7 linked regions of the Homo sapiens genome follow. The protein of the gene in region 1 purifies or fractionates together with the protein of each later gene. This does not show direct contact. Each region holds a gene or a part of one and is shown in the gene's direction. Other genes may lie near its edges.

Region 1 (3,500 bases):
CATTTAGGTTGTAGCAGGCAACATAATGGTTACACAGCTGACCACTTTTCCTTATTTTATTTTATTTTTGAGACAGAGTTTTGTTCTCGTTGCCCAGGCTGGAGTGCAATGGCATGATCTCGGCTCACTGCAACCTCCGCCTCCTGAGTCCAAGCGATTCTCCTGCCTCACCTTCCCGAGTAGCTGAGATTACAGGCACCCGCCACCAGGCCTGGCTAATTTTTGTGTTTTAGTAGAGATGGGGTTTCACCATGTTGGTCAGGCTGGTCTTGAACTCCTGACCTCAGGTGATCCACCCGCCTCGGCCTCCCAAAGTACTGGGATTATAGGTGTGAACCACTGCACCCGGCCTGCTTTTCTTTATTTACCTCCTTTTTTCTTGAGGCCTCTTATTCCCCCATGTTCTGTGAGTATTGCCTCTCCCACATACAGTCATATGCATTGCTTAATGCTGAGTATGTTCTGAGGTGCAGGCTTAGGTGATTTTGTCATTGTGTGAACATCATAGAGTATACTTAGACAAACCTAGATGGTGTAGCCTGCTATACACCTACCTATAGAGTATAGCCAGTTGCTTCTAGGCTACAAACCTGTTGATATACTGAATACTGTAGGCAGTTGTGATACAATAGTAAATATTTGTATGTTTAAACATAGAAAAGGTACAGTAAAAATTCAGTATAAAAGATTTTAAAAATGGTACACCAGTGTTGGGCACTAATATGAATGGAGCTTGCAGGACTGGAAGCAGCTGTGAGTGAGTCAGTGAGTGGGCAGTGAGTGAATGTGAAGGCCTGGGACATTACTATACACTACTGTAAACCAGTGATTGGCTTTAGCATGGGCATGTGGTAGAGACCTGACTGATCAAAGATACGTAAAGAGAGGCTTGAGGGAAATATTTTTCTCCCTGGATAAAAAGAGAGACATGAAGATGAACCTTCCATCCAAACAAGATTTCTGAGGAGGAAAAAAAATAAAAATTGTATTTTAAAAAAGATAAATCTTCCAGTTTTGAATATGATTATGCAAGGTTATCTTGGGACTCTGAGGGTAAATTTGAGCGTGCTTGGATTTTTGGTACTGTCCTAGAATCACCCATTTCTCCTGACTTCTTTTTATGTGAAAGTTTTCCTCTGTTTTACCCACTTTGGTTGAGTGTTCTGTTATTGCAATAGTTCACATTAGAAAAACATTTACAATATTGTAATAAGGATTCTCTTTTTTTGAGACATAGTCTCGCTCTGTCGCCCAGGCTGGAGTGCAGTGGCGTGATCTCAGCTCACTGCAAGCTGCGCTTCCCGGGTTCATGCCATTCTCCTCAGCCTCCCGAGTAGCTCGTACTACAGGCGCCCGTCACCATGCCTGGCTAATTTTTTTGAATCTTCAGTAGAGATGGAGTTTCACCGTGTTAGCCAGGATGTACTCGATCTCCTGACCTCATGATCCACCCACCTCGGCCTCCCAAAGTGCTGGGATTACAGGCGTGAGCCACCATGCCTGGCCCCAGTAAGGATTCTTGAATGTGTCTTTGCGTGCCTAAGTGCAAGGGTAATTAAAATGGAACTTGGGGGCTGTAGAGTGTGTTCATATTTGGCTGTAGTAAATGTCAAGTTGCTTTCCAAAATGGCTGTACCAATATATACTTCCACCAGACGCATAAGGTAGTTTGTTTCTTTATATTAGACCTTTACTTAACATCTAGTATTGTGAGATACTAATTTTTGCCTGTTACTGTCTTAGAGCCTTATCTAGATTTGAATTGCCTAGATTATTAGTCATCATGTTGCTGTTTTACCAACCTGTTTTATGTTCTTTTCATAGTTGTCTATGTAGTAGTGGAGTTTTTTTATTACTATATGTGCTTTATATACTCTGGATACTGATGTTTTATATACATTGTTTATATATACACATTGCAAATATCTTCTAGTATATGGCTTGCTATAAGCTTCCCCCTCCCCTGCCGCCACCGAGACAGAGTCTTGCTGTGTCTCCCAGGCTGGCAGGCTGAAGTGTGGTGGCACAATCTTGGCTCACTGCAACCTCCACCTCCCGAGTTCAAGCAATTCTCCTGCCTCGGCCTCCTGAGTAGCTGGGATTATAGGCGCCTGCCACAGCGCCTGGCCTATAAGCTTTTTTTTTTTTTATAGTGTCCTTTATTATAGAGTATTTTTTAAAGAATTTAGTTAATCAAAAATTTTCATCATGATATGTGCTTTGTGTCTTGCCTAAAAAATATTTCCCTATCCCAAAGACATAAAGACATTCTCTTACATTTTCTTCTAGAACTTGTTGATAATTTTGCTTTTCACATATAGGTTTTTAATGTTCTTGGAATTGACTTTTGTGTGTAGTGTGAGGAAGAAACATTTTCACAGTCAATATTATTGATGCTCTTTCAGAACTCTGTTCCACTCCACTGGCCTATCTACCCCTGTGCTAGTTCTATGTTATTTTCGTTAGTATAATTTTATAAAAAGAAGTCTTTAATACCTTGCTAATCTTCTGAATTGTCTTGATTGTCCTTGGGTTTTTGCTTTTATGAGTTTTTGAATGTGCTTATGAAGTCTCACCAAAACTAAACAGCTACCAGGATTTTAACTGGCATTGAGTTAAATTTGTATATACACTTGGGAAGATTTTATGTACCTTATGCAGTATATCCCATCTATTCATGTAGATGATGTGTTTCTCCAGGTTTTTCAGTTCTTTGCTGTCCTTCAATAACATCTTAATAAGTTTTTCCTTTTAGTGGTTTTATATGTCTTGTTCTAATTAATTCTAGAAACCATACAATGTTGTTTATAATTACATTTTGTGATTGGTTTTCAGTGAAGAAAATTTGATTTTTATAAAACTTTGTATTGAAATAGACTGTGTTCAGAAAGTACACAGAGCATAAGTGCCATGAATTATCACAAAGTAAACATATTTACATAACTACTACTGATATCAGGAAAGACCATTACACTTTGCAGTCCCCTCCATTCTGGTCTTCTCCCAATTATTACCCTCTATCTCTCTTTCAAAAAGTAATCATGGCCAGGTATGGTAGCTCACACCTGCAATCTTAGCACTTTGGGAATTTGAGTTGGGAGGAGTGCTTGAGGCTAGGAGTTTGAGACCAGCCTGGACAATAGAGCAAGACCCCAAAAAGAAGAAAATTAAAACTGAGCGTGGTGGCACACACAGCTACTTGGAAGGCTAAGGTGGGAAGATCTCTTGTGCCTGGAAGTTTAAGGCTCCAGTGAGCTATGATTGCGCCACTGTACTCTAGCCTGGGTGTCACAGTGACATCCTGTCTCAAAAACAAACAAAAAAAAATCCACAAAGTTTAGTTTTATTCCTTTTTACCTTTATATAAGAATTATACTGCTTTCTTTGGTGTTTGTCATTTTTTTCCCAATATTTGTGAAATTCATCTATGCATGAAGCTGTAATTTCATTTTTATTCCTGTGTGATAGATTTTTCTGTTTCATTTATCATTTTGTTGTTG
Region 2 (3,500 bases), about 110 Mb from region 1:
ACAGGCGTGAGCCACCGCGCCCGGCCAATACTGTATGTATTCTTTGAAATTTCCTTTCACTCATCTGAGGCAGATGTTCTTACCGTTGCTGTGATTCATTCTTTTTCCAATTCATTCTGTGCATATTGAACTGTTGAGCCTTTGAATCTGAATAGCCTTTTTTTTTTTTTTTTTGAGACGGAGTCTCGCACTTTCTCGCCCAGGCTGGAGTGCAGTGGCGCGATCTCAGCTCACTGCAAGCTCCGCCTCCTGGGTTCACGCCATTCTCCTGCCTCAGCTTCCTGAGTAGCTGGGACTACAGGCGCCCGCCACCACGCCTGGCTAATTTTTTTTTGTATTTTTAGTAGAGACGGGGTTTCACCGTGTTAGCCAGGATGGTGTCGATCTACTGACCTTGTGATCCGCCCGCCTCGGTCTCCCAAAGTGCTGGGATTACAGGCGTGAGCCACCGCGCCCAGCCCCTGAGTAGCCTTTTTAAAATTCAGTTACAAAAACTGCCGTCAACATTCTTCCACATTCTCTAGGTGCACACAGACAAAAGATTCCCTCCCCGGGAATTTATTTAAGAGTGAAATTACGGTATCATAGGAGGTATATGTGTTTAACTTGACTAAAAATATGAACAAATTTTTCAAAGTGGTTGTGCTGATTTACACTCCTACCAGCAGGGTATAAGCACTTCTGCTGCCCTTTATCTTCACTAACACTTGATATCATGAAACTTGTAGTTTCTTACCGGTTTGGTAAATGTAAAATGCTAGCTCACGGATGTTAATCATGCACTTCTTTGATGACTAATGAGATTGAGCATCTTTTCATATGTTTACTGGCCATTTATGTTTGTTGTTCTTTGAGTGCCCTTTGACAGGTTTCTCCATTTTTCTACTAAGCATTCATCATTTACTTACTGATATGTAAGAGTTCATAATGCATTCTGAATACCAAACTTTTGTCTGTCATGTATGTTGTACATATCGCCAGTTTCTGAACCTTATATTTTCAATCAATGTAGGCTGTGAAAAGACGAAGAAAAAGGCCGAGCGTGGTGGCTCACGCCTGTTGTAATTCCAGCACTTTGGGAGGCCCAGGCGGGCAGATCACCCGGAGTTCGAGACCAGCCTGGCCAACGTGGTGAAACCCCGTCTCTACTAAAAATACAAAAATTAGCTGGGCATGGTGCCAGGCGCCTATGATCCCAACTCCTTGGGAGGCTGAGGCAGGAGAATTGCTTGAACCCAGGAGGCGGAGGTTGCAGTGAGCCAAGATCTCACCATTGCACTCCAGCCCCGGCGACAGAGTGAGACTCTATCTCAAAAGAATAAAACAAAAACAAAAGATGAAGAAAAAGTCTTAACGTAGTTGGACTTATCTCTTACTTTTTGATTTGGAGAGTGAGAGAGAGAGAGAGAGAGAGAGAGAGAGAGTGTGTGTGTGTGTGTGTGTGTGCGCGTGTGTGTGTGAGAAAGAGAAAGATTTAAGAAATTGTTTTCTACTTTAGACTCATAAAAATATTCTATATTGTCTTCTAGAGATATTTTTCATTGTTCTTTTGAATCCGTCTTTAAACCATGTGGAATTGATTTTTTGTGTGTATAGGATATGGGGAGAGATCCAATTCTGTTTTCCCCACATGCAGATAATCACCTGTTCAGCACCATTTATTGTCCATTCCCTTTTTTTCTCAGTGCTCTTTAGTGACCTTGCTGTTGTAAAACAGATTTCAACATCTGTTTCTGGTCTTTCCGTTCTATTCCATGGGCCAGTTTGTCTCTACCCTGGTGCCATTCCATCTTACTGTAGTTATTATAGGTTTATTATTTGTTATGGTGTTACTTATTATTTATTAGTTTAGCTCTTGATATATAAAACAAGTCCCTCTATCTCATTTTTCTTGGGAGCATCTTGACTCTCCTTGGCCCTTTTTGTAACTTGCATCAACATTTGAGTCAGCTTACCATGCCCCACAAAAAAATTCTTTTTAAATTTTGGTTATTAATTGTATTGAATCCACAAATCTGTTGACATTTTATTATGAACCTTCCAGTCCATGAAGTTGGTATTTATATTTTTTAAAGTCCTTTAGTGTCTTTGAATACATTTTTACTAATTTGCTTCATAAAGGGCTGCCTATCTTTGGTTAGATTTATTCATAGGCACTTTTTTAAAATGCTGTTGCAAATGGCTTATTTTTTTATTGCAGTAAAATATACATAGCATAAAATTTATTTTAACCCCTTTTAGGTGTACAGTTCAGTAGCATTAAGTATATTCACATTCTTGGAACCATCACCACTGTCCATCTCCAGAATTCTTCCATTATCCCAAACTTGAAAACTCTCTACCCACTAAACCGTAACTCCCCGTTCTCCCTTTCCTCAAGCTTCTGGCAACCACTGTTCTACTTTCCTTCTCTTTGAATTTGGCACATCTCGATGGAATCACAAATGACATTTTTTTGGTTTTTTGAGATAGGAGTCCCGCTCTGTCACCCAGGCTGGAGTGCAGTGGCGCAACCTCAGCTTACTGCAACCTCTGCCTCCTGGGTTCAAGTGATTCTCTTCCCTCAGCCACCCGAGTAGCTGAGATTACAGGCACACACCACCATGCCTCACTAATTTTTTTGTAATAAATGACATATTTTTAATAATATGTTTTTCTGTCTGTTTTGCAGTGAAGAAATACAATCAGTACTTTATTTAGGAGGTCTCTATCTAACAGCTTTGCTTACTGCTTCTAATAACTTAGCTGTATTTGGGTTTTCAGCATAAACAAGCAGATCACATGTGAATAAAACTATGAAACCCACCTACAGAATTTTAAATTTTAACTTTTTTAAAAATATTTTTTAAAGACAGAGTCTCACTCTGTCGCCTAGGCTGGAGTGCAGTGGCATGATCTCGGCTCACTGCAACCTCCGTCTCCTGAGTTCAAGCCATTCTTCTGCTTCAGCCTCCCAAGTAGCTGAGATTACAGGCGCCCACCACCACGCCCGGCTAATTTTTGTATGTTTAGTAGAGATGGGGTTTCACCAGGTTGGTCAGGGTGGTCTTGAACTCCTGACCTCAGGTGATCCGCCCACCTCAGTCTCCCAAAGTGCTGAGATTACAGGCGTGAGCCACTGCGCCTGGCATATTTTAACTTTTTTTTTTTTAAACAAATACAAATGAGATCTCTCTATGTTGCCTTGGCTGGTCTTGAACTCCTGGCCTCAAGCAGCCCTCTTGTCTTAGCCTCCCAAAGTGTTGGAATTACAGGTGTGAGCTATGGCACCCAGCCCTGTTCAAGCTTCTTTCTTTCCTTTATTATTATTATTATTATTATTATTATTATTATTATTTTTATTTTTTCCAGACAGGGTCTTGTTCTGTTCCCAAGCTGGAGTGCAGTAGTTTGATCATGGTCACTGCAGCTTCGAGCTCCTGGGCTCAAGCATTCCTCCCACCTCAACCTTCCAAGTAGCTAAGGCTACAGGCACAGGCCACAATGCCCAGCTAATTTTT
Region 3 (4,024 bases), on another chromosome or scaffold:
TGGCTCCTCCTCCAAGCCCCCTCCTCCAGCCCCACCCTTCGGGGCTATCTGGCCACACCTGGACAGAGTCTGCCTGCCCTCCCTCAGTGAGCCTGTGGGCCGCATGTGGCCTGCTCCCCAAAGAACGGAGGTGCCCGCTCCCTGCTTAGGCCTTCTGCCAGCTCTCAAGTCCCCAAAAGACAAACATCCTCACTAGGACCTGGCTACACACGGGACATTTGTGCTCCCTGCCCAACTTCCAGAGTCGGTCTGCCCCAGTTGCCCCCCGGGGACCCGCACCCTGCTGCCTCCCAGTCCAAGTCCAGCTTCCCCGCTGGCTCCCTAGGGCCTGTCCCTCTGTCTTGCTCCCTTCCCACACCTTCCTTCTGCTCTGTGCTGTTACCCACCTTACCTGATGCAGGAGTTCCCACTCTCTAGCCCCAGCCTCTCCTGGAAATCCGACAGCCAGCAGAATCCACCGCCCAGGCTCCCCCAGCCCCCTTCACTCCTCAACTAGGACTGCAGGGTTTCCATCCCGGGGGTCTCCTTCTGTCTTTACCTCTACTTCCTACCGCAGTCCACAGCCTGGCCATTCTACTTCCTCTGTATCTCTCCCATCCGTCCCTACGGAGACCCCTTCCCCCAGGCCTCTGGTCCGGACCGAGTCTACCACAGGCCTCAAGCATCCTGCTCGGTCCGCCCCTTGCGAGCTCTGAGTGCGCAGGAGTGCGCAGGGGGAGCTGACCGCACACCCCAGCACTACAAGGACTTCGCGGTGGGGTGCTGTGGAGTTGGCTTTCGGCCTCGACCTGGGCTGTCTGCGGGCCCCACTCCCTTGGCCGGTTCCGAGGCGCTGGGAGCGGGGGTGGGCTTGCGGAGTCGCGTCCGTGTCCCCGATCCGCCTTCCCGTCCCGGGCCTGGCCTACGCAGTGGGCGCGCAGGGGCGGCTGCTTCGGTAGATGTCTAGGGAGCGGAGGGAAAGGCGCGGGAACCGGGGATTCCTCGGGCGGACCCTCCCTCCACCAGCGCTCGGCGGGCCTCCTCCAAGTTCGCCCCCAAGTTTGCGAGCGGCCAAATGGGGGCGGGGGCTGCGCGGAGGGGCGGTGGCTAGGCCGGAGGGTGGGGTCTGGAGCGCGGGGCGGGCGCTGCCGCCTGGCCGGCCGCGGCTGGCCCGGGATCAGGGAGCCGATGTGGAATTTCCTGCCCGGCTCGGCGCCCCTCCTGCCGCCCCCCGCCCGGCCTCGCACTCCGCTTCCGGCCGCTCTCGCTGCGGCCGCACCCGCGCCCGTGCCCGCCCCGCGCCTGCCCCGCGCCTCATGGAGGGCGCAGGGCCCCGGGGGGCCGGGCCGGCGCGGCGCCGGGGAGCCGGGGGGCCGCCGTCACCGCTGCTGCCGTCGCTGCTGCTGCTGCTGCTGCTCTGGATGCTGCCGGACACCGTGGCGCCTCAGGAACTGAACCCTCGCGGCCGCAACGTGTGCCGTGCTCCCGGGTAGGAGCCGGCCTGGCTGGGGGAGGGGGCGAGAGGGACGCTCTGGGCAGTGGTGTGGCGGCGCCGGGCATTGGGAGGGGGCTACCGGAACCTTCCTACGCCAAGTGTGGGCCCCTTCGGCTCCCTAGCCAGCGCGGCTCCGTTCCAGGCCCAGCCTCGGCCATGGGCCACGACAGTGCATCCCAGGGAACCCTGGACGAGAAGTCACCTGAGGGGAGGATGGAGTGCCGTGGGCACCCAGGGGATGACACGCGTTGTCCGGGATATCAGGAAAGACCTGGAAAAAGGGACCCTTGACCGAGTTGTGAAGTCCACGGGGAAAAGCTGGGGAAGGGCATTCAAGCCAAAGGAACTGCATGTGCTAAAGCCCCGCACTAGTCCGACTGGAGCCGGGAGTGGGAGTGAGGAGGAAGGTCAGGGGAGGAGGAGCGGTGCTAGCCGGGGAGGTCCTGGAGCAAGCCAGACTTGGAAAGACAGATTCGCGTCTTAGAGCGGGCGCGGGTGGGAGGGTGGTGACCCAGGCGAGCGTCGAGGAGCCGGCGCTCGAAGTGGACCAGAAGCGGGAGGCGGAAGGACTATGACAGGCACAGGGGACCGGAGGATGTGGGAACCCTGGCGACAACCAGGTGGGGATTCTGGGTGCAAGAAGGGGCCGCGCAAATGTGGGGCGCCGGCTGGGGAAGCCAGTGTGGGACAGGCAGGCGACAGGCCCGGCCGGTGGGGGGGCGAGTCCGGGAGTTTGCACGGAGGGCAGAGAGGTGAGCCCCGGACGCCAGGAGTTAGGAGCTGGGGTCGGGGGAGCCGGTGGGCTGGCCAAAGGCCACAAGGTCAAGGGCATCTCCACGCAGGGGTGAGGAGCGGGCGTGTGGGGGCGCCTTGGCGCGGATTGGAGACGCCGCACGGGCTGGCAGCCGCAGAGGCGGCCGCCGGGCTCCGAGCTGGGTCGCGTCGGGGCGCCTGAGCCACGGACCCGGGGCAAGCCGAGTCCAGGGGCTCGGCGCCAGAGACAAGGGGCTGCGAGGGGGCAGCGCGGGGTTTCCGAACTCTGGTCCGGAGGCGCGCAGACCCCTCCCCGCTGCGAGCCCCGCCTCCGGGGCGGGGGCCGGCCTGGCCCGCCATCTGCTTCGCATCGATGCCGCCGCCGCGGACTCCCGGGCCTCCCCGGCCCCAGGAATGCAGCGGCGGCGGCGGGCGGGGCGGTGCCTGGAGAGGGGGAGGGCGCGATCGCCGTGGTCTCTGTCTACTCACTCCAGCCCTCTTTCCCAGACAGGCCCGGGACCAGGAATGGGGGTCCGGTGCCAGGCTCTAGCTGTCCGGAGCCTGAGAGCCCTTTGCTCCCGCTCCCCTGGTCTGCAGACCTCCCAGGAGGCGCCTGCTCCAGGAACCGAGCCTGGGTTTGGGTTCCCATCCTGGTGCCACCCTACCCAGCTGTGTGGACCTGGGCAAGTCATTTGACCTCTCTGGGCCTGTCTCCACCTCTGTAAAATGGGATAGTGATCACAACCCCCTCATGGGGCTAAGTGGAGATCGCTGTGGTCATGAGTGGCAAGGGTCGATGGGAAGGACAGCCACTCTGGGCACTGCCCACCTGGGGTCTGGGTCATGTCTTTGTTGTCCTCCCACATCTTGCAAGGCTTCCATCAGCCCTTCCCTTTCCTGGGAGGCAGGAGGATGGGGAGAGGAGAGTGCAAAGCCAGTAAAATCCTATGCACCTACACTGTGCCAGGCCTGTATTGGTGTAGGGAAGCTGCAGTGGAGACCCTGACCCTGTGGCAGAGGAGACACAGTCCAGAAAAGCAAGTGTGTCTAGACATCTAGCAAGAGCTGGGAGGTGTTGGGTTGGGGAGTGCTGTTTCCTTTAGGGTGTTCTGAGGAGAACGGCTGAGAAGGTGGTGAGTGAGCACAGGCCTGCAGAAGAGCACGGAGGCCCTGTGGGTGTCTGGGGCAAGGTTCCCAAGGCAGAGGGCCTGTGGAAGTACAGGAAGGATCCAGGAGGCTGGGCAGAGTCCAGGAGGGGCTGGCGGAGGAGCTGCCAGAGAGTGAGGGTGGGCAGGCCACCGTGGGCTGCCACTGCTCAGAAGACTTGGGCTTTTCTTCTGAGGGCCATGGGACCCCCTGGGGGCTTTGTACAGAGAAAGGGTGGGATCTGACCAGGATTGGCTGCCAGGTGGCAAACACTTCGCACCCTGGGGGGCAGGGGGTGGAAGCTGGGGCCAGTTACAAAAAGCCAGGGAGATGGAGGGTGGCTCTCACAAGGCTGGGATAGGGAAGGAGGAAGTGATCCCATTTTAGATATCGTTTAGAAGCTAGAGCTCAGCGTCTTTTTTCTCAATGGATCTGGTGTAGACAAGAAAGAAGAGTCAGAGATGCTTCTCCAGGTCTCAGCTTCCCAGCCTGAAAGGACAGGCAGGGTTATCTGAGGCAGGGAAGACTCAGGGTGCAAGGAGGTCAAGAGTTCAGGTTTGGGCTGGTTGGGCATGAGGCCCATGAGGTCTCCTTCTGGTGACATCATCTATTGGGCAGTTGGATTTGCAAGTCTAGCATTGATGGGGAGAG
Region 4 (3,500 bases), on another chromosome or scaffold:
AAGACTACTTAGGAAGCTGTATTTAAAAAGTCCCTGTGTGGGCTGATTAGTTCTCAGACTCTACAGTATTTTGAGTAAACTCAAACTCATGTTAAAAAGAAAAATGGCCTTGAACTAGAACTTTGAGGGGAAAGTTATAAATGGATAAACAGGAACTTATTTCCCTTGAGAAGTGTTTTTGGGTAGTGAATGTCAGCATGCTTGGAGTGGGGAAGAAACTGAAGTTGAGTGTATATGAGAAGTGAACTAACTGCATAGAGGTGATTTTTTTTTTATTAGAAATTAAGGAAATTTAAAAGATGTAAATGGCATGTGTTCTGATAAGTTAAAACAAATATCCCAATTAATTTTTTTATTAATGCAATGCACTTTCAAAATTTAGAAACTCTTGTTTGTGTTATAATTTAAAATATTTTTCAAAGTAAAAATAACTATTCTTCACCCTTATTCTCCCCCACACCCCTGTTTCTCTCTCAGATGCAACCACTTTTAAAACCTGTAGCTGATTCTTCTAGTGTTTATTACCATATTTTAAAATAAAATTTTACACTAATTTTCTTGAATTATCATTTTTAAATATTCAATTCTTGTTTTTTAACTAACATAATTTATCTACATTGTCCCAGTGTAATTAAATCATAATTTTTTGTTAAATTAGTAATCATTGTTTACCTTTTAACCATGTGGTGTCTATGTACTTCAGAACCAAGTAATGTACAGTATTTCTTTTCTTTTTCTTTTTTTTTTTTTCTTGAGACAGAGTCTCACTCTGTTGCCCAGGCTGGAGTGCCTTGGCATCATCTCAGCTCACTGCAACCTTTGCCTCCCGGGTTCAAGCTATTCTCCCACCTCAGTCTCCCAAGTAGCTGGGATTACAGGTGCCTGCCACCATGCCTAGCTAATTTTTTGTATTTTTAGTAGAGATGGGATTTCACCATGTTGGCCAGGCTGGTCTCGAGCTCCCGACCTCAGGTGATCCACCTGCCTCGGCCTCCCAAAGTGCTGGGACAGTATTTCATTTTTTGTGCAGCTTGCCCTACTGGAATAAATGATTGCTTTTTAAAAAATAGATTGCATAGTTTTCTATGTACATACCCTTAATTTCTTTGCAGATATTCCATCATATCTGCCATATACCTATCCTGCATTTTTGTTTTTCCCATTGGATCCTCTACATTCCTATCCAGTCTGGATTCATTCTCCAGGCCTTTTGTAGACTTACTATGTGGGGAATTTCCCCATGTAAAAAAAGAAATTTCCTCATTTACTTCACGGGGGTGTGTCTTTCCAGAAATTCCTGAGAAAGGATGCCTGATAAGTCCTGTCACATCCAAAAAGTTTTTCTACCCACTTTTTTTTTTTTTTTTTTTTAGAGACAGAGTCTCACTCTGTTTCCCAGGCTGGAGTGCAGTGGCACAAGCTCAGCTCACTGGAACCTCCACCTCCCTGGTTCTAGCAATTCTCCTGCCTCAGCCTCCTGAGTAGCTGGGACTACAGGTGCACAACGCCACGCCCAGCGAATTTTGTAGTATTTTAGTAGAGACAGGGTTTCACCGTGTTGCCCGGGCTGGTGTCAAAACTCCTGAGCTCAGGCAATCCACCTGCCTTGGCCTCCCAAAGTGCTAGGATTGTAGGCATGAGCCACCGCGCCCGGCATCTACCCACTCTTAAAAGTTTGGTTAGCTTATTGTGTTCTAGCTTCATGGGTTGCAGTTTTAAAATTCAACCCTCTTCTTTCTCCTAATCTTTTAAATGTAAATTGTTTTAATTTTGGAAGCTATTGGAGTCTCTTCTTTTTCTATTTTGTTCTGATTTCATGATGATGTGCCTTGGTATAGATTTGTTTTTCTTTTTTGATAAAGACAGGGTCTTTCTCTATCACCCAGGTGAAAAAGGAGTGCAGTCACACAGTCATAGCTCACTGTAGGCACCTAATCCTGGGCTCAAGCTGTCCTCCCACCTTCGCCTCCCAAAGTGCTGCAATTACAGGAATGATTATTCTTTACTTATTATGCTAGGCATTATGTGGGCCCTTTCAAGCTAGAGGCCTCTATCCTTGGGAGCTTTTTGAAATACTCTTACATTATTAAATATTTCTTTGAAAAATTTTTTTGTCTCTTTTAGGAGTTTCTATCAGTTGATTAGTCTGCCTGGGTTCATCCTTTATTCCTTTATCTTATCTGTTTCTTATTTTTATCATTTAGTTTTGTTTTATTTTCCTTTGCAGGAGGTTTTCTCAACTTTCTCTTTTAAATTCTAAGTCCTTTTTTTTTTTTTTTTTTTTTTGGTGGGGGATGGAGTCTTGCTCTGTTGCCCAGGCTAGATAGAGTGCAATGGTCCAATCTTGGCTCACTGCAATCTCCACCTCCTGGGTTCAAGCGATTCTCCTGCCTCAACCTCCCAAGTAGCTGGGATTAGAGATGCACGCCACCACGCCTGGCTACTTTTTGTATTTTTAATAGTGACAGGGTTTTGCAATGTTGGCCAGGCTGGTCTCAAATTCCTGACCTCAAGTGATCCACCCACCTCCACCTCCACCTCCCAAAGTGCTGGGATTACAGGCGTGAACCACCGCGCCCAGCCAGGTGTCACATTTTTAATTTCCGAGGTTTTTCTTTTGTTTTCTTACTGATGTTGTCTTTTAGCATACTGTTGTTGGTTTGTTTTTTTTTTTATAGACAGACTTTTTTCTCTTAAGTGTAATTTTGAAGTTTTCTTTTGTTGCATTAGTTCTGTTTTCTTCAGGTTCCTTATTGCTATTTGTTTTAGCTCTCTTTAATAGTCAAAGTTTTCTTCAGAAGGCAGGTGTCTACTCACATTTTCAAGTAAGGTGCAAAAGAAATAATTGGAAATGTATTGCCTAGTGGGACTAGTCTACTATCTTTTGCCCTGCATGTATGTTCTTGACAGACTAACATTCTAGAAATAGGGTAGAGCTGTGGGCAAGGGTTAAATTGTTCCTTTTGTAGACTTTTGGTTAACTCCTGTGTCTAGCTTAAGGCCAAAACCTTACCCATTACTGTAATTTAAATCCTTAATTCCTGAGACTTTCCAGAAATACACCACTTGGTTCTTACCTTGCTGAGTGAGAGGGAGAAAGAACTACCACTGATGCATTAAGAAAGTAATTATCTATAGTCTAATTGGAAATTTGCTGTCTTGCTATTTCATCTGAGTAGAATTAAGTATAAAATGAATTAAAGGCCTAATTTTTGCTTGGGTCGCTCAGATAATAAGACTGCAGGACGTTAAGCTTTCAAGATTCATATAAATAATTTTAGAATTATTTTGTTAATAAAAATATATCAATACCTATGAAAAGGAAAAAATAAAAATATACATATAAAGTTAGATATATATGTTTGGATGCTATATTGATTGCCAAGTTTCGTTAAAAAAAATTCCATTCTTAATTTACTAGCTTTCAGAAATAAAATGATTCTTTTAATTTTTACTGTAAATTTTGAATTTATGTTAAAATCCAAACTAAATATTTTATA
Region 5 (3,500 bases), on another chromosome or scaffold:
GGTGGGCATGACAACGTGACTAATTTGGAACTTGAGGAATGAGGGATTATATTGAGTCAACACTGAATAAAAAATGATGTCCAGGTATTTTAGGTCAATGATTCATTTAGAGTAAATAAAGATTAAGAAGTCACAAGTTACATGCTTTTAATGACATGATCAACAGTTGGTGTTGTTCTGGCGCAGTGGCTAACACCTGTAATCCCAGCACTTTGGGAGGCCGTGGCGGATGGATCACTTGAGGTGAGGCTTTCGAGACGAGCCTGGCCAATATGGTGAAACCCCATCTCTACTAAAAAAAAAAAAAAAAAAAAAATTAGCCGGGTATGGTGGCACATGCCTGTAGTCCCAGCTACTCGGGAGGCTGAGGCAGGAGAATCGCTTGAACCTAGGAGGTGGAGTCAGCTGTGAGCCAGGATCCCACCACTGCACTCCAGCCTGGGCAACAGAGTGAGACTCTGTCTCAAAAACAAAAAAACAGTTGGTGTTTACTAACCTAGTAGAACCAAGGCACCCAAGGAGCTGAGTTTTCTTTGTTTATATGCACAGATTGCTTCACCTGTGGTATCAGACATCACAACATGGGGCTCACCAAGCAGTACCTACGCTATGTTGCTAGTGCGGTCTTTGGCGTTATCGGCAGCCAAAAAGGTAATATTGTCTTTGTGACACTTCGTGGTGAGAAAGGACGTTATGTGGCAGTACCAGCTTGTGAACACGTTTTCATCTGGGACTTAAGGAAAGGAGAGAAGGTGAGCCTAAAATGACCAGTTTGATACTGATTTATTGGTATTTGAGGATGGAGAGGTAGTAGAAGTGGGGGGGCTCTGATTTATTTATCATGAGTTTTTTTGTGTCTGTGCCCTTAGAAGAAAAATCTTTTTCCTTTAGGTCTAGCTAGCCAAGCATCAAGTTCCTTTGTGTTCTTCGCCACTGAATTCTGAAAACCACAATGAAATAGGAGCTTATTTCTTAGATGTCTATTTGTTGGAATATTTACAGGTCATTATTTGCAGTAATTATTTATTCCTGATGTATTTTTTCTCTACCAATTCTATTTTTCAAGCTCGACTTATGCTTATAGCTGGTTATAAAATATTAGGCATGTAAAAGGAAGGTTAGTCTATTTTGGCAGAATCTTTTTCTAATATGGATAATGCCCAAGTGTTGTTAAAGTAGACTTTGATACTTTGTGTGACTGAATTCCCTAAGCCTACCACTTTTGCCAAACCAAATATAGGCATTTTGATATTGTCCATTCATTTTGTGATTCCCAAGAGGTTAGTACTTTGATTCTTGTTGCCACCAAGAGTCCTTTGTGGTTAAAACCACTGCAGTACTCTGTTGCCACACAGATTATTTTCTTATAAAATGGGTCTCAGTTAAAGGAATTTATAAACCTTTATTGAAAATCACGTAGTGTTGTTCTAGGGTTAAGAATTAGATTAAAGGGATTAAATTTATTTTATTGCCTAGGGAGTTTTTATATGTATTACAACAACGTAGGGCTTTGGAGAAAATAATTAAGCCTTTTCTTAAATGTTTCATTGCCTAGTACAAATACTAATTTCTATATTAAAAAACTTGAAATGGATTGTGGAGTTTCATTTTTATTCATAAGAGTAATTTGGAATTATTGGTGCTCTTAATTTTACTGTGCCTGAGTATTCCTATGCTTTTCCCTTGAGTTCATGCTTAACTCTTCTACATTGTTTTTAATTTTTATGATTTCAGATTCTTATCCTTCAGGGGCTTAAACAAGAAGTTACTTGCTTATGCCCCTCCCCAGATGGGCTACACTTAGCTGTTGGGTATGAGGATGGGTCGATCCGAATCTTCAGTCTCCTGAGTGGGGAAGGAAATGTGACCTTCAATGGTCACAAAGCAGCTATCACTACCTTGAAGTATGATCAGCTAGGAGGCAGACTGGCATCTGGGTCCAAGGTGAGCCTTTGAATCAGCCCAGGCTTTGATCTATTAAAGGAATGTAAGGCTTATGCTGAAGCAAGTTGTTGACAAAAATTGTCAGGTAAAACAATGGGCTGTCAATATACAAAGTAGTATAATGATAGAGTGAAGAGGATGGGTGTGAATTGGGTGGTTCATTTTGTTTCCTTTTGTTCATTTTGTCATATTTTCTGATAAAAGCCTCTTAAGTGTAGGAATAAGATGAAGAGAGCCATGATAACTCTTATTGTGGAAGTGCTACGCAAAACAGTAAAATAAGGAAAGAAAACAAAGACTGGAAAAGAAGAGACAAAATAATTATTTGCCATTGACTTCTGTAAAGTCAGTAGAATTTCCTGTATCTCACAAGTCATGAGTTAGAAAATATAAAAGATTCCATTCACAACAGATTAAGTAACAGACATAAAAATACCATGAAACTTTACTGAAGAATGGAATAGAAGACTTTTATAGAGATATAATCCATGTTCTTGAATGGGAAGACAAGGTATTGAAAAGATGGTAGTGTTTTCTAATTGATTTATATAGCTAAAGCTATGTTTAGACATATGTTTATATAGATACAGATATATTTAAATAGATATCTTAAAGGTTTTAGTTGTTACTTAGAACTTGACCTAATATGGAAAAGCAAAGGAATTGGAAACACTAAAATTTGGGAAGAAAAGAATAATAAAACAGGGGTTTTAGATATTAAAATGTCATATAAACCCATAATTTAAGAAGTATCATATTGATACTTCAATGCAAGTACCAATGCAAAATAGATTATTGCAACCAAATGGAAATCTCAGAAACACATCCATGATTACATTCCTAATTAGTATATTTTAAAGACGACATTTTAATAAGTAGAAAAATGATAGATTACTTATAAAACAGTCCTTAGACAATTGGCTATTTGAGCGAAATTTTTAAATTAAAGCTTTACCTCATGCTATATACCAAAATGAAACAAAGATTAAAGACTTAACTATTAAAAAATAGCATTTTAAAGTAAACTAGAAAATATGTAAGTAAATATCCGATAGCAAGGTAGAAAAGGACTTTATTAGCAAAGAAATAAATTAAAAAAGGAAACTGTTGGTAGATTGGAATACTTGAAACATTTGTACATTAAAAACAAGTCAGAGGACACTGAAAAAGTTAAAATATTTAATATTTTCAATATAAAAAGAAAGGATTAGTATCATTCATCTATTAATAACTTACAGTCAAATAAGAGATGACACTCTAAGAATGATAGACAAAAGAAAGTCATGAATTGGCAATTCAAAAGAGATACTTTATGGCCAATAATCACCATAAAGCATGTAAAATATTTCTCATTTGTATTCATAAAAAATGTAAATTAAAATAAATATTAAGACTGAACATTTTTTACTTATGATATTTGTAGTAGTTTTTGAGAAAACTAATAATAGAGTTAAATGAATGGGGAACAGGCCTTGTCATACATATCCCTGCTGGTTCTATAGATTTACCCAACCTGGAGATCATTTTGATAGTATGAATCCAAAACTTTAAAAATA
Region 6 (4,179 bases), on another chromosome or scaffold:
ATGTCTTTCGGATGGTCCCCTGCAGGCAAAGGGGCTAGCCTTTGACAATTTCTCCACACGCTTCGGGGCTAGCTGGTATATTCCAATTAAACCAACATGTTTCCATCACAGACTTCATAGCCATCAAGCAATCATAGCCTTACCCAATGGAGAAAAGGAGCGGGCTTGGAGCGCGTCCACGGGAGTGGGCCTCCCTCTGCGCGCCTCTGGGAATGTTTGCGGTGCTTAAGTCAGACCCGGATTGCTCCAAGCCCAGCTTATCCTCCCCAGTTCTGCCAGGGTTTTTTTCCTCTTGTTTGTTCGTTTGTTTTTGCCTCTCTTTGATTTAACTTTTGCTCCTTGACTAAATATGTGCTTAACGCTAGACAAAGGACACTTCATACCCAAGTCTGTGTCTTTGTTCCAAGATCTGCAATTTCATTTGGTTCCTGTCGGCTTTACAAGTTCAAAACTATGCCCCCGTTTAGGAAATGAATTCAAAGCATGCGGCAAGGGAGACATTCGACAAACCCGGATGCTCTGGAAAACGTTGCCCTTCCTCGAGTTTCTTTCAGTAAAATCTGAATTTTGTTCCCGGGAGGAGTTGGGTTTGTGATTGCTACAGTGTAAGTTGCACCGAAATACTACATCATGTTCTTTGGGACATACATTCTGTTTCAGAATAAGAATGATATTCTTCCTTTCCTAAAATGTGAGAGTTTTATATGGACCTTTTTAAAATAAAAAATTGGAAGCCCTTGGAGTCAAGGCCAGAGTAAGACTCGCAGAAACCAAAGACAGAAAATATTTGGAACCCCCCCTCCTCAGACATGAACCACACTGAAATGTGTCCAGATACAATTCTTCAAAATCCTGGCTTTTCACAGGATGATTTGTTATTGAAAAAGTTGTTTGCTTCAGAATCTGAATTGTTTTAAAAGATTCTGTTGGTTGCCCCTGCTTTGCGGACGCCTTTTGTACGTTCTTCCTGATGTAGCGCTGCGAGGGGCGACTTTACCTCGGCGTTTGACAGGTACGCAGCATTCCCGCACCCGCCTGCGCCTCGCGAGCAGAAAGACGGCGGACTCTGCACCGCTCCACGACACTGGGGACCCGCCCCGGCCAGACCCGTCCCCTACCGAGACCTTGTCCCCGCCCCGCCCCCGGCCGGGGCCCCGCCCCGCCAGCCCCGCCCCCGCCAGCCCCCTCTCCTACCGAGACCTCGTCCCCGCCCACCAGCCCCGCCCCGCCCCCCCCCCGACAGAGGCCCCGCCCCGGCCCCGGCCAGCCCCGCCCCCGCTTGCGCGAGGCCTAGGGCTGCAGGCGCGGAGCCGCGAGCCCCAGCCAATGAGCGCCGGCGGGCCGGTTGCCCAGGCGACCAGTGCGCGGCTCCGCCCCCCGCGGCGAGGCTCCCGCGCGCGGCTGAGTGCGGACTGGAGTGGGAACCCGGGTCCCCGCGCTTAGAGAACACGCGATGACCACGTGGAGCCTCCGGCGGAGGCCGGCCCGCACGCTGGGACTCCTGCTGCTGGTCGTCTTGGGCTTCCTGGTGCTCCGCAGGTGAGAGAGAGCTTCGCGCAGCACCTGCCGGACCCCACATTCCCCAGCCCTCCGCACCTCGGGTTCTCTCCTCCCGCGACCCGCGAATCCCGAGTTCCCGGGGGGAGCAGCCCCAGCTGCTTCTTTCTGGGAGCTCCCCAATACCCCCGAGTTCCCCTGCGGCTGCAGGCACTCTACTCCTGCCGCGCGATCCAGGCCTCTGGGCGACACCCGGCGTGCCCTCGGGAGCCGGCGTCTGTGCCCCGAGCCGCCCACCCCGCCGCGCCTGTGACGCCGGGCTCTGCCCCCCGTGGACGCCCGCAGCCCTCCAGCCGTCAGAGCCCTCTCAGACGCACCCCATCGCGGCCCCGTCCCCACTGCTCCGCGGAGAGCTCCCTCTGCCCTTCCCCCAGGCCCCCCTTTTCCTCCCAAGCCTCTGGGAGGCGCCTTATTCCGCAGAGGCCGGCGCTTCAGCCTGGCAGGTATGGTCTAGCCAGCTGGCCTGGCAGGGTCGTAAGAACAGTGTCCGTGGGCCTCCAAGATCCCGGGCCATGATTTATTTGCACAGTAGGACTGATAGGTCGTCTCTCTCCACTTTCCCACCATTCACCTGTTACCAGCTCACCCTTTCCTCTCCCCCTTTTCCAAATGTTGTTTATGGCAAAGGAGTGGCTTCAGTGATACTGTGATTTACCCACAGCCTGTGAAAAAGTTTTCTGGGTGCCCTAGCCCAGCATTTTTCTAAACTGTGCTTATTTTAAGGATTCTACAGCCCTGACCCTATCTTTCAGGTCAGCACTTTCCATATTCAAAACCTCCAGTGGGAAGCCGACCGGCAGTATCGAATGAACTGAACGGTTGGAAGTGGTGGCAGGCCCTACGCCGCTCGGCTTTGTCATTTGCTTCTTTTTTACTTAGAGAAACTAAGTTCTTAGTTTCTCTGCACTTCCCCTGGGAGACAGGGAAGTTTTTGATGGAGATAAATATCTGGAAGTCCTTTGTGGCCAGAAGAACACACTGACAAACTCTATGTTTACACCTTGTCAAGACTGGATTCTTGTTTCTGAGATAGTGGGGACGTCATGATATTGTTTGGGAGAAGGACGGATTTTCTTCTCATTCTGGGGCCCAGAAAACTTCAGGCATTTAACTTCTCCGGTTGTTCCCAAGATGTTTTCTGTCCTGCCTAAGATCTCTAAGCCATTCCTCTCTGAAGATTGGCCCTGGCTCCTGTGGGATGCTCAGCTTTCCTCCCTGTGCAAGGCTTACGCAAACCCCAGAAGAATTACTCAGAGCAGCGGCAGCAGATCCTCCTGCATACAGCAGGGTAGCAAGGCGTGCAAGCTGCCAAGAGAAAGGCTAGCGGCTGCAGGCCTGTTGTTGGTCAGGGATACAGGAGTCCGTGCAGGGGACCCAGGCAGGTCACTATTTGGGGCAGCACTGTGGGCTTGAGATGGGCTGAGTGGTACACCCAAAAAGTCCCCAGGAAAAGGTATGCGAAGGAGGCTGAGGGTTTGTTATTGTTTGGTGGGACAGAGGTGAGGTGGCAGGGAGCTGACCTAGCTGGGAAGACGCCTGAGCTTCTTTGAGGTGAGGTAACTGTGTCCCCACCTAGGTGGGGTGACCGCACTAGGAGTCAGTCTTGGGCCATTGGAGCAGGTGGAATGGCAACAGAGAATAAAGAGCTGCAACCAAATTCTGTGAAAACAGTTTGGCCTGCCTGGGAAGGATGTTTTTCTTGCCTCTCCATCCTTCTAGCAGGTAGAACAGAAGCTCAAGGAGCTCTGAACCAAGTTCAGGGCCGTGTCTTCAGATCCTGTGGAATACGTGTCTTTTTGGCATCTTTTTGATTTTTTCACCCTCATGGGTACATTCTGCCAGTTCCTCCTGTCTGACTTGGGCTGGACACCAGTGAGTATGAGTTGCTGTAATATCTCTGGAGGCAGGAGGAGAACATCCTCTTTGTCTTTCCCTCTTCCTGTCTTGCCCCAGCTCTGACTGGGTCATTAACTGAGTGGGAGGTGGGGCCTCTCCCAGCTGTTACTGGGCAGTGTTGAGGTGGCCAGTGGAATATAGGTCACGTGGAAACTGGCCACCAAGTTCACTCTTTGTGGAGCCGAGCTGTCAGGAGCAGCCCCTTTCCTGTAGCAGAAGGCAGGTATTTGGACAGTGGCTGGCATGGGCTGGGGGATGTTTGGCTATAGCTTTTCTTTTTTTTCATCAACTTTTCCTTGGGCTGGTTCACGGTCAGTCATAGCTGGTGGGTTACATCATATCAAAAGACTAGGATGACCAGGTTGACTTTTGGGGAGGATTTCAGTCTTAGAATTTTTATTTTTATTTTTTTTAAGCGTAAACAGTGGTCTTTCTTAAAAATTACCTTTATTGGAGTTTAATTAATATGTACAATTTGATAAGCTTTGACACATATCTAAATCCAGCTGTGAATCTATCACCACAGTTAAGATTGTGAAAACAGCCACCAGCCCCCAAAGTTTCCATGTACCTCTCTGTCATCCCTCCCTCCTACTCCTCCCTGCTCCCCAGCCCCAAGCAACCACTGATCTGTTGCTTTCCGACACGATATATTGGTTTGCATTTTCTAGTGTTTTATAGAATTGTAATCTTAAAGCATGTTTTCCTTTTTGGTCTGGCTTCTTT
Region 7 (3,500 bases), about 90 Mb from region 1:
TTTCTCTCCGAAGCCCAGGATGACCCACAGAAAAGAAAACCAGACATCAAAAAAGCAAAGCTGATGCTGGGGTGGGAGCCCGTGGTAAGTGCAGGGAGTTAATGCTGCCTTGTGGGGAGGGGCCTCCCGTGTCCTGTGTCTGCTGTCCTGTAGGCACTGACCCTTGTCAGACAGCCCCCGGAGGAGCAAGGTGGGCTCGGCATCCAGGCAGATAGAGGGTTTTCTCCAAGTGGTAAACAGCCTCTCCTGTATCAGGAGTCTCAGAGAATGTTACCTGGGAAGCGGCTGGAAGCCCCTGCTCTGGGCTCTGTTTTCGTAAAATCTCTCATGCACACACACATTCTTACATTCTCTCATACACATACACTGCCATACAAACACTTGTACACACATATACTCACACTGTCTCCCACACACTCACACTGTCATATATACACTGTCATACAAACACACTTAATACAAGTATACTCACACACACTCATTTTCACACATACATATACATTCACACTATCATACACATTCTCACATTCACTCACATGCGCACACTCACTGATCCACACTCACATTCACACATACACTCCCTCTCCCACATACATACACACACACACACACACACACCCCTGACTGTGAACGCTGTGCCAAGGGCGCTGGCAGCACACGCTCAGAGCCCTGCGTAGCCCCAGTTGCCTGCCTATTGAGTGTGCGGGGCCAGGTCAGGGGCAAGTGGTCCCCATCAGCCCCGCAGTGGAGCCCCTGGTTGGAAGCGTGCGAGACTGAAGGGTGTGGAGGAAGGGGAACTGCATGCCTTCCTGTTGTCTTCAGTGTGTCTACTGAAGGGGGCAGGGTGGGGCGGCTGCTGCCTCCCTGGGGCTGAGCCTGAACCCCGCCTGCTTCTGCTCTGCCGCCTGCTGTGCCCTTCCTGCCTTGGGTGACTGCAGGCTCCTCCCCGCCAGAGAACGCTCGTCCTCAGGGCTGCCTGTGTCCTTCAGAGACCACCTGTGTAGGGAGGTTGGCTGGGTTGGCCCCATCTATAGAAGCAAGCCCACCTCATTTACTGTCACCTCTGCCTGGCTGTTCCCTCTTTGCCCACCCTCATGTGCCCCACTGAAATTCGGGCTCCCCTCGGGCAGAGGCGTGTAGTGTAGCCCTGTGTCCAGCAGGAGCCCGGCACCTGTCAGACCTGACACACACTGGGTGCTCAACAAATGTAGGAGCATCTTGGCATGGCCCTTGGGTTGTGGCGCAGTCAGAGAGTCAGGGACGCAGTTGAGAGCTCAGTTTACCTTTTTAAAATGTGCATAGTCAGAGCTGAGTGAGTAGAATCCTAGAATATTGAACTTCAAAGGGACATGAGAGTTCCAGCCTGATCCTTATTTCATTCTGTCATGTACAAGTCTACGTAATCTGCTAAAAACTGCAGAAATTTGTTGAGTGAAATAAAAATACAATTACACCCAGACTTCACAAAATCGAATAATCCCAAGCTGTGCAAAACAGGTTATAGCAGCCTAGGTTTCTTGTTTTTTTGAAGCTTTGTAAGGGGCCATTGGTCCCTTTGTAAGGAGAGCCTATATTTTTAAACAAAATATTTTTTGAAGATTTAAATATACATTCACTATGTATTAACTATTGCTTTTTATGTGAGGTGTGTGTATGCTCAGTATCTTTATCTTTCTGGAATTTAGACCTATAATATTCTAACATTCTTGGAATGTGAGCCATCTACCACTGGTTTCTCTTCTAGTAGTAGTTTTAATTTATAATAAATTTTTGAGGGATATGATCCAAAGAAACTTACAGGCATTATCCATCTTAATTGTCCCAAGTGTGTGTGTTTAACAGCTTGTTGAGATATAATTGGCAAACTGCACACTGCCCATATTTAGAAGATACAATTTGATAAGTTTTCATCTATTTTGACACCTGTGAAACCATCGCTGCAGTCAAGCTGACAGACCTTCTCCCCCAGTGGTGCCCCAGCACCCCTTAGCAGTGCCTCCCTTCACCTTTTCTCTTTCTGCTGTTAATCAGCAGTTGATCTGGCTGGTTTCCTGTTGGCTGCAAAGCAGCTTCAGATGAAGGTTGCTTTCTGTGGTGTGGGCTGCCGTGGGTCCCCTCTCAGACTCAGCCTCTTAGTATGGTGGGGGTGCAAGTGGGCCATGATCCGCTAGGCAGTGCAAAGGGTTGATGTCACGTGGGAGAATCAGGCGTGTTGATCAGATGCAGATCACCTTCCCAAAGCATCTTCCCGCCACTCCAAGGTGGATTTCTTCTGAAAGAATGGGGCACATGGGCATTATCTGAAAAACAATCTTGCCAGCCGATTCAAACTGGAGTAGACATTATACCAGCAAGAGGTAGTCGGGGTCTTTTGTGAGGTGGAGCTCACTTTACGTCAGTAAGAGTGACACTTGTCAGCTCCACAGTACATTCTGAAAGCGGCCCTGAAGGACTTCTGGCTTCTCTCGGTGGGCCGTGATGCTGGATGCTGTCACAACCAAAGCATGGTTCTGTGAGTGTTCCTCTGAAGGAGGCCTGACTGGCTGCAAGGTGGCACTTCCTTCCTGCAAGGTGGCACTTCCTTCCTGCGATGCCCTTCTGTCAATGTGACCTTGTCTCCCTTTCTTGCTTTCCCTTTAAACAGGTCCCGCTGGAGGAAGGTTTAAACAAAGCAATTCACTACTTCCGTAAAGAACTCGAGTACCAGGCAAATAATCAGTACATCCCCAAACCAAAGCCTGCCAGAATAAAGAAAGGACGGACTCGCCACAGCTGAACTCCTCACTTTTAGGACACAAGACTACCATTGTACACTTGATGGGATGTATTTTTGGCTTTTTTTTGTTGTCGTTTAAAGAAAGACTTTAACAGGTGTCATGAAGAACAAACTGGAATTTCATTCTGAAGCTTGCTTTAATGAAATGGATGTGCCTAAAAGCTCCCCTCAAAAAACTGCAGATTTTGCCTTGCACTTTTTGAATCTCTCTTTTTATGTAAAATAGCGTAGATGCATCTCTGCGTATTTTCAAGTTTTTTTATCTTGCTGTGAGAGCATATGTTGTGACTGTCGTTGACAGTTTTATTTACTGGTTTCTTTGTGAAGCTGAAAAGGAACATTAAGCGGGACAAAAAATGCCGATTTTATTTATGAAAGTGGGTACTTAATAAATGAGTCGTTATACTATGCATAAAGAAAAATCCTAGCAGTATTGTCAGGTGGTGGTGCGCCGGCATTGATTTTAGGGCAGATAAAAGAATTCTGTGTGAGAGCTTTATGTTTCTCTTTTAATTCAGAGTTTTTCCAAGGTCTACTTTTGAGTTGCAAACTTGACTTTGAAATATTCCTGTTGGTCATGATCAAGGATATTTGAAATCACTACTGTGTTTTGCTGCGTATCTGGGGCGGGGGCAGGTTGGGGGGCACAAAGTTAACATATTCTTGGTTAACCATGGTTAAATATGCTATTTTAATAAATTATTGAAACTCACCAGTCATGGAC

What was found.
Region 2: the proteins of SLC39A10 (region 1) and KCMF1 purify together in Homo sapiens (affinity purification with mass spectrometry; one large-scale study listed by BioGRID and IntAct). This does not show direct contact.
Region 3: the proteins of SLC39A10 (region 1) and SCARF2 purify together in Homo sapiens (affinity purification with mass spectrometry; one large-scale study listed by BioGRID and IntAct). This does not show direct contact.
Region 4: the proteins of SLC39A10 (region 1) and ITFG1 purify together in Homo sapiens (affinity purification with mass spectrometry; one large-scale study listed by BioGRID and IntAct). This does not show direct contact.
Region 5: the proteins of SLC39A10 (region 1) and WDR3 purify together in Homo sapiens (affinity purification with mass spectrometry; one large-scale study listed by BioGRID and IntAct). This does not show direct contact.
Region 6: the proteins of SLC39A10 (region 1) and GLB1L2 purify together in Homo sapiens (affinity purification with mass spectrometry; one large-scale study listed by BioGRID and IntAct). This does not show direct contact.
Region 7: the proteins of SLC39A10 (region 1) and UXS1 purify together in Homo sapiens (co-immunoprecipitation; 2 studies listed by BioGRID and IntAct, with this or other methods). This does not show direct contact.

Annotation. Positions count from the first base shown.
Region 1 is NC_000002.12:195,674,226-195,677,725, forward strand, and holds part of SLC39A10 (zinc transporter ZIP10 precursor), read left to right. Parts: intron 1-1,236; exon of another isoform or gene 1,237-1,496; coding exon of another isoform or gene 1,497-1,509; intron 1,510-3,500. UniProt on the Homo sapiens protein: Zinc-influx transporter. When associated with SLC39A6, the heterodimer formed by SLC39A10 and SLC39A6 mediates cellular zinc uptake to trigger cells to undergo epithelial-to-mesenchymal transition (EMT).
Region 2 is NC_000002.12:85,023,161-85,026,660, forward strand, and holds part of KCMF1 (E3 ubiquitin-protein ligase KCMF1), read left to right. Parts: intron 1-3,500. UniProt on the Homo sapiens protein: E3 ubiquitin-protein ligase which accepts ubiquitin from an E2 ubiquitin-conjugating enzyme and then transfers it to targeted substrates, promoting their degradation by the proteasome.
Region 3 is NC_000022.11:20,435,026-20,439,049, reverse strand, and holds the start of SCARF2 (scavenger receptor class F member 2 isoform 2 precursor), read left to right. Parts: upstream 1-1,224; 5' UTR 1,225-1,295; coding exon 1,296-1,468; intron 1,469-4,024. UniProt on the Homo sapiens protein: Probable adhesion protein, which mediates homophilic and heterophilic interactions. In contrast to SCARF1, it poorly mediates the binding and degradation of acetylated low density lipoprotein (Ac-LDL).
Region 4 is NC_000016.10:47,454,564-47,458,063, reverse strand, and holds part of ITFG1 (T-cell immunomodulatory protein isoform 1 precursor), read left to right. Parts: intron 1-3,500. UniProt on the Homo sapiens protein: Modulator of T-cell function. Has a protective effect in graft versus host disease model.
Region 5 is NC_000001.11:117,932,739-117,936,238, forward strand, and holds part of WDR3 (WD repeat-containing protein 3), read left to right. Parts: intron 1-549; 5' UTR 550-581; coding exon 582-752; intron 753-1,734; coding exon 1,735-1,944; intron 1,945-3,500. UniProt on the Homo sapiens protein: Part of the small subunit (SSU) processome, first precursor of the small eukaryotic ribosomal subunit.
Region 6 is NC_000011.10:134,330,609-134,334,787, forward strand, and holds the start of GLB1L2 (beta-galactosidase-1-like protein 2 isoform b precursor), read left to right. Parts: upstream 1-1,379; 5' UTR 1,380-1,453; coding exon 1,454-1,539; intron 1,540-4,179.
Region 7 is NC_000002.12:106,093,302-106,096,801, reverse strand, and holds the end of UXS1 (UDP-glucuronic acid decarboxylase 1), read left to right. Parts: coding exon 1-84; intron 85-2,644; coding exon 2,645-2,776; 3' UTR 2,777-3,491; downstream 3,492-3,500. UniProt on the Homo sapiens protein: Catalyzes the NAD-dependent decarboxylation of UDP-glucuronic acid to UDP-xylose. Necessary for the biosynthesis of the core tetrasaccharide in glycosaminoglycan biosynthesis.